Linked DNA regions of Homo sapiens: regions 2 and 3 are each linked to region 1. Evidence: fine-mapped expression QTL. A gene starts in region 1. Each other region holds a variant in brackets. All regions are shown on one strand. Distances are from middle to middle.

What was found.
Region 2: its variant is fine-mapped to the expression of ATP11A in T cells (TOPMed, PIP above 0.99). The same link has a PIP of 0.9 or more in blood mononuclear cells.
Region 3: its variant is fine-mapped to the expression of ATP11A in whole blood (TOPMed, PIP above 0.99).

The regions. Positions count from the first base shown.
Region 1 is chr13:112,688,977-112,691,627 of GRCh38, forward strand. It overlaps ATP11A (ATPase phospholipid transporting 11A), which reads left to right and starts at 1,062. Exons shown (of 30, transcript NM_015205.3): 1 at 1,062-1,479. The coding sequence starts at 1,441. LOC102725228 (a long non-coding RNA gene) reads right to left here and starts at 839. Exons shown (of 2, transcript NR_187633.1): 1 at 687-839. RefSeq lists an enhancer at 1-416 and silencers at 665-1,594, 1,615-1,854.
Region 2 is chr13:112,868,230-112,871,023 of GRCh38, forward strand. All of the region lies in intron 25 of ATP11A (ATPase phospholipid transporting 11A), which reads left to right. Among named protein-coding and RNA genes, the nearest start is that of MCF2L-AS1, 99 kb to the right of the region's middle. The variant T/C (reference allele first, on the strand shown) is at 1,205.
Region 3 is chr13:112,873,953-112,876,746 of GRCh38, forward strand. It overlaps ATP11A (ATPase phospholipid transporting 11A), which reads left to right. Exons shown (of 30, transcript NM_015205.3): 28 at 1,824-1,989. Among named protein-coding and RNA genes, the nearest start is that of MCF2L-AS1, 93 kb to the right of the region's middle. RefSeq lists a silencer at 1,280-1,469. The variant G/C (reference allele first, on the strand shown) is at 1,146.

The DNA.
Region 1 (2,651 bases):
AAAAGTGGCCAACACCATCTCTTTTCCACAAGCACTCGGGAGAACATTCATATTCAATTGCCTTCCTAAGACCCAGACGGGGCAGCGCTCTCCACAGGCCACCAAAAGGTGTTGCCTGTTTGGTTTCATCAGTGATTATCTGTGGCAGCAAGACAGGAAGTTGGAAATCAAGTACCTCAATTAAGTCAAGGCTGACCGTGGAATTAGAGAACAAGTGTTTGTTACCCCGGCCAGGTCACCCTAGGGAAAACAGGCATTCTCCGGGATTGAAATGGTGGTGTTTGTGTGGTAAATAGTTCTCAGTCCAGTTCAAAGCCAGCAGCATTAAGGACACGCCACCGCCACCGGGAGCTGGAGACCAGGCGAAGCTGAGCTCCTCTGTGGTTCACCAACCCCTCAGGCCGCCTAAGTGTCTTCTGCTGTCGCAGCTTTGGGGACAGAGGGGTTTCGGAAACAGGGGCCTCTTGTCTGCACCCTCCCCTCCCACTGACAGGCTGGCAGCCCAGGGCAGCCACCTGAGGAGCGTCCCTGTGTCTCTCCATCTGCAGAGCAGGAAAAGCCTGCGGGTCGGTGGCGCCACGCTGGGGCGAGACCCAGCTTCGGCTCAGGAGATCTCCCACCCAGCCGGACTCCCGCTCTCTGCCCGCGGCCCCCTCCCACACTCCCACCTCGCCCCGCGATCTCACTGCCCCATCGAGGCTTCCGGGCGGAGGAGAAAAGTTTTCCGGCAGGAACCCGGGAAGGAAGCCCTGGGACCCTGGCTGAAACTCCGGGTTTCCCCAGTGCCGAGTCCCTTCCCCGCCGCGCCCAGCGCCTGCGCCCCGGGAGGCGGAAGCAACAGGGGGGTTCCTCCCCGCGGCCTCTGACCTCTGCCCTCTGCCCTCTGCCCCCAGGGTCTGGGGCCCGGGCGGAGGCGCGAGGGGGCAGGGCCGGCGCGCGGGTGCGAGCGCGGGTGTGGGCGCGGGGCCGGCGGGGGCTGCGGCCGCGGGGCGCATGCTCACTTGCGCCGGTGACGTGCGCGCCCGGAGCAGGGGCAGGAGCCAGCGGGGCCCGGAGGCTCCAGAGGGCGGCGGGCAGGGGAGGAGGAGACTCGGGAGGAGCAGAGCGCAGGCTCCGCCGCGGCCGGGGTGCTCCAGCCGAGCCCAACCGAGCGGGCGGACCGACGGGGAGAGAGAAGGCGCCAGAGCGCGCGCGCGCGGCCCCGAGCAGCAGCCTTGCCGCCAGTGGAGCAGCTGCCGACGCGCGGGGCCGCGGACCCAGCATTCGCCGGCCGGGCCGGGCATGAGCGCGGAGGGGCCGCGGCCGCCCCCTGCACCGCCCGGCGCGCCGAGGCCGTGACCGGAGCGGGGGGCGCGGCCGCACTAGTACCCCGGAGCCCATGGGCGCGCCGAGCCGGGCGCGGGGGCGCTGAACGGCGGAGCGGGAGCGGCCGGAGGAGCCATGGACTGCAGCCTCGTGCGGACGCTCGTGCACAGATACGTGAGTGCTCCCGGCGCGGGCTGGGGGACCCGGGGACCAGACAGACGCGGGCCGGCCCCGCAGCCCGGACCCTGTGGCCGGTCCAGCCCCGGGGTCCCGGGAGGTCTCCGATGTCTGGGACTCGGACCGCCCCCGGGGACGAGCGGGATGCTGGGGAGGGGCCTCGGAGTTGACACCCTGGGGCTTCCGACGGGGTCTAGGTGGGCACAGCGCGGGGCCCCAGCCCCGGGCGGCCACCTGCTCCCTGGCCGCGGCCGCCTGGCGCCCCCTTCCCGCCCGCAGCGCCCTGGGGGTCCCTCGGAGAGGCTGGCTGGGGTTCGAGCTGTCCCGGCGGACCGGGCGCCCGGAGGGAGCCAACTTCGACCCCGCCGGGGCCCGGGTCTGGGGAGGAACCTTCAGATGCGGCTTCCGCGCAGCCGTGTCTGTAAGATTAAGGGATTGGGAGGAAGCGTTACACTTCTGCAGAAAAAGGTAGCAATTGTGTTTGTTCTTTAACACCCCTGGGGGATTCAGAAGCGGAGTTTGGAATCTTTTTATTTTTTACCTTAAAGTAACCAATTAGATCAGAAGTCCGGGGTCTTCTTGGGTTCCTCTGGAATTTGCCCCTTCAGTGATAAGCAAGTGAAGAGCTCAGGAGGGAAGACTCGGAAGGGGAAAAGTTGATTTTGTTTTACACCAGAGGAGGGGAAACCGGAATCCCTGGCGTTAGGTGTAAAAAGGGGTGTGTGGCCGGGCGCGGTGGCTCACGCCTGTAATCCCAGCACTTTTGGAGGCCGAGGCGGGCGGATCACGAGGTCAGGAGTTTGAGACCAGCCGGACCGACATGGTGAAACCCCGTCTCTGCTAAAAAATACGAAAATTAGCCGGGCGTGGTGGTAGGCGCCTGGGATCCCAGCTACTCAGGAGGCTGAGGCAGGAGAATCGCTTGAACCCGGGAGGCGGTGGTTGCAATGAGCCGAGATCGAGCCACTGCACTCCAACCTGGGTGACAGAGCGAGACTCTGTATCAAAAAAAAAAAAAAAAAAGGGTGTGTGTGTGTGTGTGTGTGTGTAGGAGAGGAAGAAAACTGTCCCAAGCACAGCGTTTCCTGCCACTGTCTTGCACAAGAGGCTTCATTGTTCCATAGAGGCTGGCGGTCACTGGTCAATCACAGGTTCGAGAAGTCGCATGC
Region 2 (2,794 bases), 180 kb after region 1:
ATGGGCCAGGTGGGAGGCAGAGGGATCTGCACAGGGAGGGGAGGCAGTGGATGCCACTCATGACCGTGACCTTGAGAAGGCGCAAGTTATGCTGGCCGTGGATGTTTTTATACATCAGAGTTAAATGGGTCTGGTCTGAGGACTTTTTGAGCAGAAAGCTTCTATAGGAATACCCATTCTCAAAGGAGGGAGGAAGTGGGGGCATGGGGCTTAGCCTGCAGTGGTGGAGGGTGGCCAGCCCCAGAGGCAGATCTGCTGAAGGAGTGAGGCTTTCGCACTGGTCAGGTTCTTGGCTGAGATGTGCCTGTCACATGAGGACAGGGTTCCACAGAAATCAGAAACAGGAGCTTCACTGGGGATGGCGTTGATGTCACTTGGAAGAAAAGGGTCCCTGTGAAAAGCCCTTTGAAAAAGGAGATTGGTATCCCAGGGATGCCTGCCACCCCCAGAATCTGATGGAAATAACGACCAGCAATTGTAGTAATAAACTATCCGCACATGTTAGTCCATTTTCACATGGCTCTGAAGAGCTACCTGAGACAGGGTGATTTAGGAAGAAAAGAGGTTTAATCGAGCCACAGTTCTGCAGGCTGCATAGGAAGCATCGCTGGGGAGGCCTCAGGAAACTTACAATCATGGCGGAAGGCAAAGGGGAAGCAAGGCCCTTCTTTACAAGGCTGCAGGAGAGAGAGAGCAAAGGGGAAAATGCTACACACTTTGAAACAACCAGATCTCATGAGAACTCACTCGCCCACCGTCAACGAGATCTGCAAGGAGGACGTCCATGATTCAGTCACCTCCCACCAGGCTCTCCCTCCAACACACGGGGATTATAATTTGAGATGAGATTTGGGTGAGGACACAAAGCCAAACCACATCATGGCAGTTCACCTGGGGGCCCCACTTCAGGCCACCAAGGGAATAAGAGGGCTTTCCAGAGATGCGTTTCAGGATAGCTCCACAGTGGACTAGCTTCCAAAGGACGTGGACACAGGTTAGTAATGGGTCAGCGTTTCTCAGGGGCCCTGACCAAGGTGCCTGATTCTGGATTCACGATAGCTGTGCTTTGTTCCTCACCTATAAAGCTTACAGCTGTGGCCCATGTGCTCTGCAGGACCAGGCATCCTGAGGCCTAACTCCTTATCCCAGTTCTGCCATTACCCCCTAAACCCAGGGAGCCCCAGCTGGGAGCTTAGAAAGGCAG[T/C]TTCTCGGCTCACAGCAGGGAGAGGGGACAGTGAGGAGGCCGTGTGAGTTGACTGCAGTTATCACCTGTGGCGCTGTTGGTGACACACACTGCTTCACAGGGCACCCTTGAGTTCATGTCTTGCTGCCATCTAACTCTTTCAGAGTTCTGTGTTGGGATGGCCAAGGTGAGGCCTGGGGGAGGAAGAGGAGAGCTGGGCAGCGTCAGGGGCTTTTCCTCCAGGCCCAGCTGATGTGGTTGTCTGGGTGCAAAGCCGCCCTCAGCTGCTGTGGAGGCACCACTTGGCTGAAAGCATCAGCTTCCAGTTACAGCACAGCAGCCTCCCGCCCTCCAGCACCTTGCTGGCCACATGTGCTTGTAGGCTGCTGCCAAGCCACAGCTGTTCCTAGAGGCATGATATTTTCCTGCCCCAGAAGTTAAGCCACAAAGAGACGGCACTTTTTGGTGAGTGTGAAACAGGCTTCTCACCCGGGCTCTGCTGACATTGGGGCCAGATGTACATCCTCGTGGGCCACTGTCGTGTGCACTCAGCAGCCCCTCCACCCCCCCATCCAAAGCTAGCAGACCCCACGCCCCAGAAATGTCTCCACCACGGCCAGGTGTCCCTGGGGGCAAGGCTGCCCCAGCCGAGAACCACAAGCATGTGTAGATCTGAGTGACACTGTAGGCCAGGCATTTCCAAGCCAGAAGGAGGAGGCCCACTTCTGATCACAATGAGGAAGTGAGGGAAAAACTGAAGGATGTGTTGATGGGGGCCCCTAAGAAGCGGTGTTCACTACAAAAGGTCCTAACACTTTTTTCTATAATCTACAAATGAGATGTTATCCTGTTATCCCACTGACCATGTGGGAGGACTGTAGCCCACACCCTCCCTCAGCTAAATCAAGGGGTATGGTGATGGGTGTGTTGTTTTGGTTGAAACTGAATTCTGAAGAACAGCCATTTGTATTCCAGCTTTTTAAGAGACAGAGTCTGTGCTCTGTCGCCCACGTTGGAGTGTAGTGGCGTGATCTCTGCTCACTGCAACCTCCGCCTCCCGGGCTCAAGCAATTCTCCTGCCTCAGCCTCCCTAGTGGCTGAGATTACAGGCAGGCGCCGCTACGCCCGGCTAATGTTTGTATTCTTAGTAGAGACGGGGTTTCACCATGTTGGCCAGGCTGGTCTCAAACTCTTGACCTCATGATCCGCCCACCTCGGCCTCCCAAAGCGCTGGGATTACAGGCATGAGCCACCACACCCGGCCCGCTTTTTAATTCTTTATAAAATAAAATTCCCTGCGAGGTGCAGTTCATGGAATCCGATAAACTAGAAATCGTCTGGGCCACAGCGCAGGAGCGTCCCAAAGGAAAGCAGGTTCTCCCGAAACAAGTTTCCAGTCGGGGGTTTTCCCCAAGGCGGGGGGTGGTCTGGGCAGCAGCCCTTTCTGGCCTGTGCCTCGTGCGGTAGAGAGGCGTGCTGTCCTCACGGGTCGGGCACGCGGTCCTCACGGGTGTGTCTGTGTCTGTGCTGCGTTGCCAGCTGGCAGCTCGTGGGTCCCACTGACCTTCCCTCCTCCACGGCCACCTGGGCACCACTGCTGGCGGATCTGTG
Region 3 (2,794 bases), 190 kb after region 1:
CACCAGGGGACCCATGTCAGATTGAAAGGCCAGAGGTGACTTTTCAGAAACAGTCATTTGAAACCTGGAAGAAGAGCGCCATCATCACAGCAAGTCCCAGCTGGTAACCGCCTCCCACAACGAGGCACTGGCCAGGCATTCGACAGGTCCTGTCTCACTCCATCCTCACGCCCCGCAGCAAGATGGGGCCCAGGCATGGTGGGGCTGGACCTTGCCCGCAGCAGCCTGACTCATCGGGGAGCCTCTGGTTTGGGGGAGAGCAGCAGGCACGCAGGCCCGGGCGGGAGGAGGTCCTCCGTGAGTGGGAGCCGTGGCCAGCGGAGAGGGGCCCGGACCAGGCTGCAGAGCAGGCATGGTGGCCTCCTGGACCGCCGGCCGTGAGGATCCTGGCTCGAGGCTGTCGTGGTCAGTCGAGGCAGAGCACAGCAGAGTTGAGTGGCTCTTTTAAAAACCCCACGGTGGCTGCGTGTTGAGCTGGTGAGAGCGACATAGGCAGGGTGGTCAGTCTAGAGACTGTCGCTGTAAGCCAGGAAACGACGCTGAGTGGTATGGGCCCAGGGCCAGGTCCCAGTCTCAGCCCCAGCGCAGCAGCCTCTGCCACAGCCCTCTGCAGACCTGGGGTCAGTAGCCGGCCTAGGGAAAGCCAGCAACCCACTCAGGATCCCTCAGGGCCCCTGACCTGGGCGGGACTCTCAGCCCAGGAAGAGTCCCTCCGGATTCTCTCGTTCAGCCAGCGGCCCCTGGTGGCCCCAAGTTGCATTACACAGTCTCAGAGATGACAGCCCAGCTTGGAGGGTGTCAGGCACCCTGTCAGCCCCAGAGAAACCTGCTTAGCTCTAGAGAGCCCAGCCCGGCTCTGGAGAGCCCGGCCATTCTAACAGCCCTGAAGGCGATGGCTCTGTAAGAGGAAGATTCCATCCCAAACCTCTCTGACCAGCTCCTGGGCTTTGTAGCCAAGGAGCCACAGCCCGTCAGCCTTGGTAGAACCACAGCCTCTCACATTGTTTCCTAAAACATTGACCCCACGTCTTTGATGTGCTGGGAGCTCACCATGTCACCACCGCTTGGTGATGAGACCCCATCCTCCTGCCCGCCACCAGCACCACGTGGGTGCCCCCAGCCCCATCCCAGGTCTGCCAGCAGCT[G/C]CGTGTCCCTCCCGTTACCCACCATGCCCTGCTTCCGTTTCCCTCCTGTTGTCCACACACCAGTTTCACTGTGCTTCCTGGAGCTGGGGCCCTATCTCTGTGTCTCTGCCACCATCCGTAGTGCCTGGGATGTGAAAGGCGATCAGGAAACGTTACCGGAAGGCACGTATAGACGTGGACCTGTGGGCTCGGGCTGGCTGCGGGTCACTGGTCCCTGCATCCTTGCCAGCCTCCCTCATGGAGGCTGACGCAGACGTCTTTGAATCATCCTCTTTCTGGGGAGAGAAGTCATTGCTTGCTCTGTACTGACGACCAGTGCTCGGGACGTCCTTCCCATCCGAGACTTCAAGATAGAAAAACATCCCTATTTCAATCCCTTTGTGTTTTGTTTTTTGTTTTTTTTTTTTTTGCTTCTGTGAAACTGAACTTCAGAGACTTCTATGTCCCATTTGAGATGACTTCATAGAATTCCTTCTCCCGTTCCTCTTACCCCAGCATTACCGGGAGGTTCAGTGTTCATTTTTTATATGATAAATTCAGAGCAGGCTCCGTGGCTTGCCAAGCAACTCTCACTGACAAAAGTGTAAACTCCCTGAACAGACGGCCTCTCCAGTGAGTAGAGAGGCCAGCCCCAGGGAGTACATGCCTCACCAGCGGCTTCTCTTCCCTGCCCCTCAGGCCGTTCCTCAACTACCAGAGGATGTACTACGTGTTCATCCAGATGCTGTCCAGCGGGCCCGCCTGGCTGGCCATCGTGCTGCTGGTGACCATCAGCCTCCTTCCCGACGTCCTCAAGAAAGTCCTGTGCCGGCAGCTGTGGCCAACAGCAACAGAGAGAGTCCAGGTACGGAGTGTCCCCAGCCGGGGCGGGGGTGCCTCAGGGCCCTGGCCTTAGGATTGGGAGATGACCGTTTTGAAAGACAGTGTGAAAGGTTTGGATTTCATGAAACGTGATCAGTTCAGGTATCACTAATGAGTGTCCTGACGGTGCATGATGTTAAACATCAGGTACATTTGCGATGACCGATGTCTAATTTTATGTTTCAACCTAAACAGTCATCTGAAATGAGACACAAATAAGAGAAAAAAGACTGATGCAAAAGGCAAATTATTTCATGTAAATGGAAACCTTTTTTAAAATTAATCATTACTTTAAAAGGTTGAATTACATAATTTTTAAGGATGGTAAATCTGGCTGGAAACGGTAGCATCTGTATCAGGAAATGCTGGTATTGGTGGAGCTGCTTATTTTACACACTCCCAAGTTTTAGGCACAAGCAGAATTCTGGGTCCAGGGAAGACGTGACGATGCCGAGTGTCCCCCCAGGTGCAGGGTTTGGCAGGTGTGAGGACTTAGCTCCCGGTCCCCCATCCTTTTCAGCAGCTGGCCTCTGCCTTCAAGCTCAACCCTAAATCAGAGGCAGTGACCACGACCCACCTCTGCTGCTTTACTGGGAAGCCTGCCTGTCCTCAGAGGGCCGCTGCACCTGTCACGGTCCCTCAGGACTCTATTAACAATGCAAGTTTTCAAGTTTCATCCCCGAAATTTCCAATCACTCCTTGAGGTGGAGCCCTGGACTGGGCAGTGCTGAAGCCCAATGGGGAAATGAGGGGTGGGGGCCCCTGGCAGTGGCTGCTCCTGCAGGGTG